Linked DNA regions of Homo sapiens: region 2 is linked to region 1. Evidence: fine-mapped expression QTL. A gene starts in region 1. The other region holds a variant in brackets. All regions are shown on one strand. Distances are between the middles of the regions.

The links. PIP is the estimated chance that this variant, and not a neighbour inherited with it, causes the effect.
Region 2: its variant is fine-mapped to the expression of POLD2 in testis (GTEx, PIP 0.91).

What each region holds. Positions count from the first base shown.
Region 1 is chr7:44,120,816-44,126,180 of GRCh38, reverse strand. It overlaps POLD2 (DNA polymerase delta 2, accessory subunit), which reads left to right and starts at 2,633. Exons shown (of 11, transcript NM_006230.4): 1 at 2,633-2,670; 2 at 4,072-4,347. The coding sequence starts at 4,128. It also overlaps the pseudogene RNA5SP230. RefSeq lists enhancers at 1,968-2,027, 1,547-2,451 and a silencer at 2,238-2,947.
Region 2 is chr7:44,226,930-44,232,294 of GRCh38, reverse strand. CAMK2B (calcium/calmodulin dependent protein kinase II beta) reads left to right here. Exons shown (of 24, transcript NM_001220.5): 17 at 1,241-1,289; 18 at 2,794-2,907; 19 at 3,371-3,499. Among named protein-coding and RNA genes, the nearest start is that of YKT6, 29 kb to the right of the region's middle. The variant T/C (reference allele first, on the strand shown) is at 3,109.

The sequences.
Region 1 (5,365 bases):
AGGCATAGTGGCTCACACCTGTAATCTCAGCACTTTGGGAGGCTGAGATGGGCGGATCACCTGAGGAGTTGGAGACCAGCCTGGCTAATATGGTGGAACCCCATCTCTACGAAAAATACAAAAATTAGCCAGGTGTGGTGGCACATGCCTGTAATCCCAGCTACTTGGGAGGCTGAGGCAAGAGAATCACCTGAACCCAGGAGGCGGAGGTTGCAGTGAGCCGAGATTGTGCCACCGCACTCCAGCCTGGGTGACAGAGTGATACCCTGTCTCAAAAAAAAAAGCCGAATAAACGAATAAAGATCTCATCTATGGCCGTACCACCCTGAATGTGTCCAATCTCAGAAGCTAAGCAGAGTTGGGCCTGGTTAGTACTTGGAGGGGAGAAATAACGGTCTATGCTAAAGGAAAATTCAGGTGCAATTAAAGTAAAATTAATTATATAAAAGAGAATACATTAAAAGCTAGTATTATTGTAACTTTGGTTTGTAATTCCACCAAGTGGAATTTGTTCCTGAAATGCTAGAATGGTTCAACATAAAAATCAATAAATGTAATAGACCACATTAACAGAAAAAAAACCCACACGGTCATCTCAATTGATGTCAAAAAAGTATTTGACAAAATTCAACACTCTTTTGAAAGAAGAAAAAGCTCAACAAACTAAGAATAGGAGGAAACTACCTCAAATAATAAAATCCATAGGCCAAATCCCCAAACTCACAGCTAGCAACATATTTAATGCTAAAGACTGAAAGCTTCCCCTTTAAGATCCGGAATAAGACAAAGATGCCCACTTTCACCACTTCTACTCAACATAGTATGGGAAGTTCTAGCCAGAGTAATCAGGTAAGAAAAAAGAAATAAAAAGCATCTGAATTGGAAAGGAAAAAGTAAAATTATTTGTTTGCCCAATACATGTACAATGTTTCAGGTGAAGGCTCAGAACAGTACAACCTTACCAGCAAGAGTCCTGCTGTCTCTGTGTGAATCCCAGCTATTACTCACTAGCTACATGATCTCTCTTGCCCTCCCTGCCTCAATTTCCTCATGTGTAAAGTGGGAGAAAAATAATAGTTCATGCTTCAAAGGTTTTTTGTTTGTTTGCTTGCTTTGAGACAGCGTCTGGCTCTGTCGCTCAGGCTGAAGTGCAGTGGTGCAATCTTAGGTCACTGCAACCTCAGCCTCCTGGGCTTAAGCGATCCTCCCACCTCGGCCTCCCAAAGTGTTGGGATACAGGCGTGAACCACTGTGTCTGACCCAAAGGATTATTTGAGGAGCAGATGAATTAATGTGTCATAACCTCAAAGCAGTTGCAAAGGCGTTTAATAATTAAAATATCACATTTTAAATTAAAATATAAGGCTGGGCGTGGTGGCTCATGCCTGTAATCCCAGCACTTTGGGAGGCTGAGGTGGGAGGATCACTTGAGCCCAGGAGTTCCACACTAGCCTGGGCACCATTGGGAGACCCTGTCTCTACACACACACGCACACACACACACACACACACAAACTTAAAGTAGCCAGGCGTGGTGCTGCGCGCCTGTTGTCCCAGCTACTCGGGAGGCTGAGGCGGGAGAATCACTGGAGCCTGGGAGTTCGAGGCTGCAGTGAGCCGAGATCGCACCACTGCACTCCAGCCTGGGCCACAGAGCAAGACGCTGCCTCAAACAAACAAACAAAAACAAAAATTAAAATATTAAGTAATAATTAACGAGTGTTAATATCCACTCGTTGTGGAGACAAGACCTGGACTTAGGAAACAGGCCCAGGGAAGTAGCAGAACAGTAGCGCTAGAGGACGCCTGGGAGAATCAGCGCGCGGCGGGAAGAGCCCGGGAAGCTTAGTGGGGAAGCGTCTCTTGATGGGGTGAGGAATTCTATAAATTAGTGGAGATGGAAAAAAAAAAAAAAAAGTATTCCCAAAGTGGGAGACAGCACTCAGAAAGACGTGGTGGTAAGAACGAGTATGAGTAACGGGGACAACGAGGACACTGGAGATTGGGGAGTGTTGGGCTGGAAGCTGGTGTGCAGCTGTGGGCAAGCTAGGGAGGACCCCGAAACCGCCAATGCGTTTCCCGGACGCAGACGCTGGCAGGACGGGAGGAACCCCGAGACCCCGCGCCATCCCTTCAGGAAGAGTTACTTCTCCCCGGCCAAGTTAGTGGGCCTTGGGCCTTCTTTCTGTTGGGATCCTCCTCGCGTGTCGCCATCGCTACAAGTGGGCAGCTCTGCGGGGAAAGCTGGGACGCTGGGGGCTTCACCAAGGAGGCTGGCGGCCGACCACTGGGAGGTCTGGCGGGGTGACGACCACTGGGAGGTTTGGGCAGGGCCTGACGGGGTGACGCGGTCAGCCCACTGGAGGCCGACACCCCCCGTCAGCCCAACCCCTGCACGCGCGGCCGCCAACCAAAGACCCGCGGCGCCGGCCTGCGAGCCCCCGCCCCGCGTTGCCCAGGAAACCGAGGGTGTGGCTCCGCGTTCTCTGGGCGTCCCAGGGACTGGGCGCACAGTGGTCGGCGGGATGAGGCGCCTGGTGACGGACGGGGCGAGGAGGGCAGCGATTGGTGAGATTAGGCGATGGGCGGGGAAGCCGCGCGGGGATTAGCGAGTTGCGGCGATGGGCGGGGCAGGCGCGCGGGGATTGGCGGGATGCGGCGCGCCGCGCGGTGAGTGGGGTCCAGGGAAACGGGGTCAGCTGGGGGTGGCAGTTCCAGGCCGCGAGGCCGGGCTCCTGGGTCGGTGGGCTGGTGTCTTGGCGGACGTCCCGCAGCTGCCGCGTGGATCCGAGCCGGGGCACCCGCCGTGACTGGGACAGCCCCCAGGGCGCTCTCGGCCCCATCCCGAGTAGCGCGGCCTGGCTGCTGCCGCCATCAAGCACGTTCGAGCCAAAAGCTCCTAACGAGTCACTCGTTAGACACGTGTGCGGAGCCTGTGTCCCAGGCCAGTGCTGTCCCGTGGAGATAGATTGCAAGCCGCTAGGGAATTTTTTAACTTTCTAGTAGGTGTACGAAAAAAGTAAAACGAAACAAATCAATTGGAGTAAATCCATAAATATATTCAAACTATTATTTCAATTGTATGTGAAAAAATTATTGGGATATTCTTTGTACTATTCTTAGAAATCCATTGTGTGTCCAACCCAAACATCACAGTTGGACTCACCACATCTCCTGTACTTCGTAGCCCTAGGTGGCTAGTGGCATAAGACACAAAAATCTCAGCTCTCCTGGAGCTTATGGTCTAGTTGGAGCAGGCAGACAATACATTTAAAATATACAGTTTGTTAGAAGGTAAATGTTGTAAACAACAATAACAGTTGAAGTACTGGGGAGAGTTGCAGTTGTAAATCAGATGGGCAGGGCACAAGGTAACATTTGAGTAAAGATGTAAGAACTTGAAGGAGATGGGCAAGTGAGCTCTATAAGTATACGGGAGAGGGGCAAGCAAGAGTTCAGAGGCCCCTTGCTGTGGGGAGGGATCCAAGGTGGAGGAGTGGGAACCAGGAGGGGAGAGGACCAGTGGAGCAGATCTCATAGGCAGTTGTAAGGACTTGGGGCCTTATTCAATGAAATGAGGACACTTTGGAGAGTTTTGAACAGAGCAGTGACTGATTTATGTTTTGGTTTTGGTTTAGTTCTATTATTATTTAATAATAGGCTTATTATTTCACAGAAGTTTTATTTAATAAGGCAGACCTCTTGTCTGGAAATGAGACAGGTGCCGGAGAGCTGGATGGAGGCAGATCGGGAATTCCATTTGGGGCAAACTGAACTTGATTGAGACCCTGGTAGTTGTCCAGATGGAACAGGACACCTGAGTCTAGGGTTCGGGAAGAACTCCAGATGGGACAAACACTCCTAGCTTTCCTTTTCTCTTTTTGGATGACCGCTACAGGGTGAGACATCGGTATCCAGGCACGATAAATTTCCAAGTGGACACAATGTCTGGTGTCAACTACAGCTGTTCTCCTTCTTTTCCCAGTATCCTTTGGGTGCAGTGAGACACCAGGAGAGCTGCTGCTTTGGGGGATGGACAGGGGCAGCAGGAATGCCTTTGTGTTTTCGCAGTGAACCTCCTTGGCCTGGGCGAAGCTGTGTGGACCAAGCAAGTCAGGAGTGTGGCCATGTTTTCTGAGCAGGCTGCCCAGAGGGCCCACACTCTACTGTCCCCACCATCAGCCAACAATGCCACCTTTGCCCGGGTGCCAGTGGCAACCTACACCAACTCCTCACAACCCTTCCGGCTAGGAGAGCGCAGCTTTAGCCGGCAGTATGCCCACATTTATGCCACCCGCCTCATCCAAATGAGACCCTTCCTGGAGAACCGGGCCCAGCAGCACTGGGGTAAGTGAGAGTTTGGGAAGGTGCTTCCCCCACAGCATCCCTGAACTTAGAAGTGTTCTGCAAGAGAATGGGAACAGTTTATCTAATTGATCCCACTTCCTGTTACCTTGGGAAAATTAACCTCTTTTTCCCTCAGTTTCTTCTTAAGATAGTAACAAGGATTAAATTAAGTAATTTGTGGGTTTGGAGTTAGTTTTAGTTCAGAGGCTGGTTGGAGATGAGGACTTAGTTCTGGCGGTGATGGCGATTACTTCACTGGCAGAGGAAAATGGTTTTCCTATCTTCAGTGCAGATTATTCAGGTATTTGCCTGTGCTGTAGCCAGAGAGCCCCTCAGTGTGGCAAGCCTGGCGCCAGGCACCAGGAGCCAAGACTGGTGAGGATGCACTCTCTGGTCTCGAGGGGACCCCCTCTGTTCACTCATGTCTGTTTGCCTCTCCTCCTGGCCCCCATATTTGCTGGCCATGAATTTTCCTGTCCCTTGGGCCCTCTGTCTTTCCTAATAAAGTGGCCTGCCCAACACAACCCTTGTTCTTTGCCCCCATTTCTTCCCTGGTGATCTCTCCTGCAGTTGGATTACTCTTGGTGGTGAAGCAGGGACCCCCATCTCCCCCTTTGAGTTTATTTGAGTTTTAGGTGCTGCTGCATTCCCCCATTCCTACCACTTACATAAGAGTGGCTTTCCAGGTAATTTTCAAATCCATCTCCTATTATATTTTTAAACTGAGGATTTAGTAGGTGAGACCAGGTCTTACTCATTTTTACTGTCCTTGGCACCAGGCAAAATGGATCTCAGCCCTAGTTGCACATTGGAATCCCCTGGGGAGCTTTGAGAAGCCCATCTCATCCCATGCCAAGCCAAGATCAATTCTCGTTATAGGCAGGCAGGAGAACCCTGGGCCTAGAAATCTAGCTAGAACCTCAAATTCATTAGGGATATGTATTAGTCCATTTTCACATTGCTATAAAAAACTACCTGAGATAGGGTAATTTATAAAGAAAAGAGGTTTAATTGACTC
Region 2 (5,365 bases), 110 kb before region 1:
CCATTTCCAGGACTTCCAAAACAGCGCCACTACACCCAACACGGCCCTCCAGCCCAGCTCCCACCTAGGCCTGGGCTCCTTACAGAGCCCCAGAGTGCCTCTGTGGGGACCCCCCACTTCCTTCTGGCCAGTGCCACCACCCAGCCCATCATCAGAAGACATCTTTCTCCATGGCAGGGACCAGGGGGTCCAAGGGGCACCCATGGTGCTAGGCACCAGGGCCTGGGCATTCTTCCCATCTGGCAGCTGGGGATGGGTGCCCCTGGGACCCGTGTGTGTCTGGGGTGGGTCATGCTCTCTGCAGGACTCCTAAACAACCTTCTGGGCTGTGGTGAACTCTGAGCCTGCACCTAAAGACCTGTAGTTCTGGTCTAGGGCCTCCAAGCAGTGTCCAGGCAGTGTCCAGACCAGGGGGCGGTCCCCCAGGGACCTTGTAAGATGTTTCCTCTGAGGAGCAGAGCAGGCCTCCTGGGGACCTGGGGGATGGTCTTTTGAAGGGCAGCAGCCCTGGAGCAGGGTGGGAGAGTCTGGGGCCACCTCTGCCCTCTAAGGCCACCTGAGAGGTGAGGCCGGGGCCTGACTGGACGTCCAGTCCCAGAGGGGCAGGTGCCCTGAGGGAATGTGGGCGACAGGAATGCTCTGCCTGGGGCCAGGCCAAGGTTCCTGGAGCCCTGTGCGGATCTGCAGAGCTCCTGGGAACGCCTCACCCTGTATTTTGGATGACACCGGCTGCTGCTTCATTGGAACCAGCCAGTCCCATTGTGTTTTACGTCTTGGAATTTCAAAAAGCCCATTTTCCTCTCTTGTTAAAGAGTCAGCTGAGCATACCAGTCTCTCTGCCAGGCTCATCTTGCTGGGAGAAGTGGAGCCCTCATGTGTTGGGGATGCAGGGTGGCCACAGCACTAGGGTGGCAGGGCCGGCCTCGGACTCCGTGCCAGCCTGTGCTGGCTGCCGTGAGAATGCACCCTGGTGAGGGGCGCCCTCCCAGGGACCAGCACAGAACTGGGTGTCTTCTCCGGTCACTGCCGCATGAGGTCCACAGAGCTGGGGCCCTGCAGCCGCCAGAGGGCATGTCCCCTGAGCCCCTGGCCTTTAAGCCCCGTGGAAGCAGCCGAGGCAGAGATCAGCTTCAGAGCCTGGGCTGGTCCTGACACAGGCCCAGCCCTGTCCACCTGCCCTCAGCCACGTCCCACCTATCCTTGGCCGCATCCTGACCCGCTGCCTCCCGTGTTTCCTCAGGAGTCTTCTGACAGTGCCAATACCACCATAGAGGATGAAGACGCTAAAGGTACCTGCACTTGAGTCCTTGCCCCCCCAGCGGCCTTGGCATTGCTGGGTTGCTCTTTGAGGTGGGTGGGACTTGGGCAGGGTCAACTCTCCTGCGACGCCTAGTTTATGCATGTGTTGAGGGGCTCAGGGACCCTGTAGCTGTAATCCTGCTCCAAGCCTGGGTGTCAGGCCTGCCCAGAGCGGAGAAGCATGGCAGAGATGACCGACAGCTGGGCAGTCTCGGTCACCGCATCCAAGTGAGGAAGCCACGGCTTTGCATGGAGGCAGGTTCTCCACACCAGGACCCTCACGGGGAAACAGGCCCATGGGTAGAATTTGTTCCAAGATGCTGTCCTTGTCTTAAAGCTCCTTAAGCTTGCGTTTCTGTCCAGCATGCACTTGCCAAGTGGCCGGGCAGCTGGGTGAGTGTTTCCGTGTTTGCCTTTGCTTAGCCAGGAGTGTCCTGCTGCGGTGGGTTTCTGCACCACAGATTCCAGGGCCCCCTCCCTTGCTCACCCAGGCCAATGTCTTGTGTGTTCCCCAAGAGGCCCCCAGGGCACCAGGCACTGGGGCATGCTCCATGGATTCTGCCGCCTCCAGACCACCCACATGGGGCCTCCTGACCCTCATCGCTCACACGGTCACCTAATAAGCCTTATGCTGTTCTCAGGGCTACCCTGGTGCCCAAAAAGGGTCAGCCACTCTGCCAGTTTAGGGGAGAAAACTTCTCACCTGTCCAAAGCATAGCCTTGCTCCTGCCCGGCCTACCCAGCTATGACACTGTCCCTGAGCAGAGATGAGCACAGGACTTTGGGCCCTGGATGCCGGAGAGTGGGTGTTTGTGTGATTCCCCTGCAGTCTGGAACAGGCCCCAAAGGCAACAGCATGAAGGCTGTCCAGAGGTTCTCCATCACCCTCAGCCGAGTGGGGTGCTGAGCAGTGAGGGAGGGGACCTGGGAGGGGGGCCCAGCCTGGATCCTGCAGGGGAGAAGAGAAGACAGCCAGAAGCCAGCAGCTGTGGCTCAGATCTGAGCCCGAGCAGCCTCTCGAGGTGGAGGCAGACACCCCCCACCCCACCCCGTGCAGAAAGAAGCCTTGCCAGCCTGCCCTGAGGCTGGTACAGAGTCCAGGCAGGCTCAGTGGCCATCATGCCCCTACGATGACTGTCACTCCCTCTCCGTGCGCCTGGCCTCTGCTGGCTCTGGCCAGGGGTGGTCACAGCACTAGGGTGGCAGGGTGGCCTCTGACTCTGCGCCAGCCTGCACTGGCCTGTGCTGCCCTGGCCTCTGCTGGCTCTGGCTCTGGCACCGGTCCCGTGTTGGCTCCTTCAGCCTTCACATACCTGCTGCGGCCACCACAGGCCCAGGACCCCCACAGGTGGCCACCCCACCTCCACCCCAGGAGCCCCAGGTATCCAGCTGTCACCCCCTCCCTCCCTCCTGGCCTCCCCCTGTCCTTCTCCAGTTGCCTTCTTTTCCTGCGGGCGCACCACCCACCTGCCTGCCTCACCTGTTCCGCCTCAGCCCCCAGGGTCCCCGACATCCTGAGCTCAGTGAGGAGGGGCTCGGGAGCCCCAGAAGCCGAGGGGCCCCTGCCCTGCCCATCTCCGGCTCCCTTTAGCCCCCTGCCAGCCCCATGTAAGTAGCCTGGGTCCTGCTGCTGTGGGGGTCATGTTGGAGGGCTGGCAACCCCCTAGAGGGGCCACTCCAGAGCCGAGGGCAGGCTGAGCGTGGACCCTGGCTCCAGCCTCATCACCCCACAATCCCTCACTGGGGCTTTCCAGGGTGGCCCCAGCCCATCGAGCCCCACCTCTTTGTGAGGAGGGCCCTGGACCACTT[T/C]CCTGCTCAAGGCCACTGGGCAGGATGGGAGGCCCTGGAGGCTCGGGCCTCAATTCCAGTCTTCAGGGTCGGTGCAGGCCTCACTCCACCTCAGCTTGCGGGCGGGGGGGCTCCCTGCTATTGAGGCAGGCTCTGATTCAGGGCCTGATCCCAGGGCCCAAGGGGTCTAGAACACGGGACCCCTCCCACTGGCCTCCTCCGCCTTGCCGCCGCCTCGTGTGTCTGTCTGCCTCATGTTCACGTCTCATCTGTTCCACCCCAGCCCCCAGGATCTCTGACATCCTGAACTCTGTGAGAAGGGGTTCAGGAACCCCAGAAGCCGAGGGCCCCCTCTCAGCGGGGCCCCCGCCCTGCCTGTCTCCGGCTCTCCTAGGCCCCCTGTCCTCCCCGTGTAAGTAGTGGCCCCCAGGCCTGCCGCCTCTGCTGCCGGACAGCTCCCTGCGAATGGCCGGCGCTCAGCAGCTTCCCACCTGCATGCACGGCCCAGCTACCCTGCCCCGGCGCCGCAGCCTGGAGTCCTGCCCTGGCGGGGCTTCCTGTGGGCTCCCATGCTAACCAGCAGGGCAGCTCCTGGCTTCTCCCTAAGGGGCCCAGACCCCTCCACGGCTCCTGCTCCCACTGCCACTCCCCGCTCGCTGTCCAGCCCCAGGCCCCTCTCCAAAATGTCTGTCCCAGCCCTGGGCAGCCCTGGCCCCTCCGAGGCCCCCCATGCCCCTAGGCCCTCTCTGCTGATCACTGTCCCAGCCCCACAGACTTCACACCCACCCAGGGGCCCTGCCCATGGTGCCCAGGAGCTGCACTCAGGGCCACCCTGGTTCCTGATGTGGCCCCAACCCCTGAGCACCCTCCCTCAGTCTAGGAGGCTGAGGAAGGTGCCAAAACTGGAACCCCGACCAGGGTCTCTGGAGCTCACCAACAAGGGGATAGTACGGAGAATCATAAGCCTGGCCTCTGCTGACCTGGGCTGTCCTCATGGGGCCAGGCCAGGCCTCCTCTGTAACGCCCGTGACTCCCTCCTCTCCCTGTAACCCCGTCCAGCGTTCCTCAAGGGCCACTTACCTGACAGCTTCTTGCTGGCCAGCAGCCTCTCCCTGGAGGGTGCCCTCTGCCCCCAGCAGCTTCAGCCCACGCCACCCGACAGCCAGAGCATCTGCCCTTCACTCCTGCAGCCTCCTCTCCACGCACCACGCTGTCCGCAGCAGCACCCTCTGTCCCCCTGTCTCCCTCCGTCCCCCCATATCCCCCTCGGTCAGCCTACAACCTCTCCACGTCCCCCTAAGTCCACGCTCTATCCCTACATCCCCCTCTGTCCCCCAAATTCCCCTCTTTCCCTCATTTCCATTTTCCTCCCCAAACTCTGCTCTGCCCCTCACATTCTCCCTCTGTCCCCCACACCCTCCTCTGTCCCCCAGACTCTCCCTCTGTCCCCCACACCCTCCTCTGTCCCCCATATACCCCTCTGTCCCCCACACCCACCTTGGTCCCTTCACGCCCTTTTCTGTCCCCCACACCCCCTCTGTTCCCTACACTCTCCCTCTGTCCTCCAGACCCTCCTCTGTCCCCCACACTCCCTCTGTCCCCCACACCCCCTGTCCCCCACACTCTCCCTCTGCCCCCCAGACCCTCCTCTGTCCCCTACACTCCCTCTGTCCCCCATATCCCCCTCTGTCCCCCACACCCTCCTCTGTCCTCCACCCCCTGCCCCCCATACCCCCTTCTGTCCCCCACACTTCCTCTGTCTTCCACACCCCCTCCTGTCCCCCACACCCCCTCTGTCCCCCAGACTCTCCCTCTGTCCCCCACACTCCGTCTGTCCCCCACACCTCCTGTCTTCCACACCCCCTTCTGTCCCCCACACCCCCTCTGTCCCCCATACTCTCCTCTGTCCCCCACCTCCCCCTCTGTTCCCCACACCGCCTTCTGTCCCCCACACCCCCTCTGTCTTCCACTTCCCCTCTGTCCCCCACATCCCCCTCTGTCCCCTGCACCCTCCTCTGTCCCCTGCACCCTCCTCTGTCCCCTGCACCTCTCTCTGTCCCCCACATCCCCCTCTGTCCTCCACACTCCCTCTGTCCCCCACATCCACCTTGGTCCCCTCACGCACCCCCATCCCCCATGACCCCTTCTGTCCCCCACACCCCCTCTGTCTTCCACACCCCCCTCTGTCCCCCACACCCACCTTGGTCCCCTCATGCCCCCCATCCCCTACACCCCCACTTTGTCCCCCCACATGCCCCTCTGTCCCCCACGTTCCCTT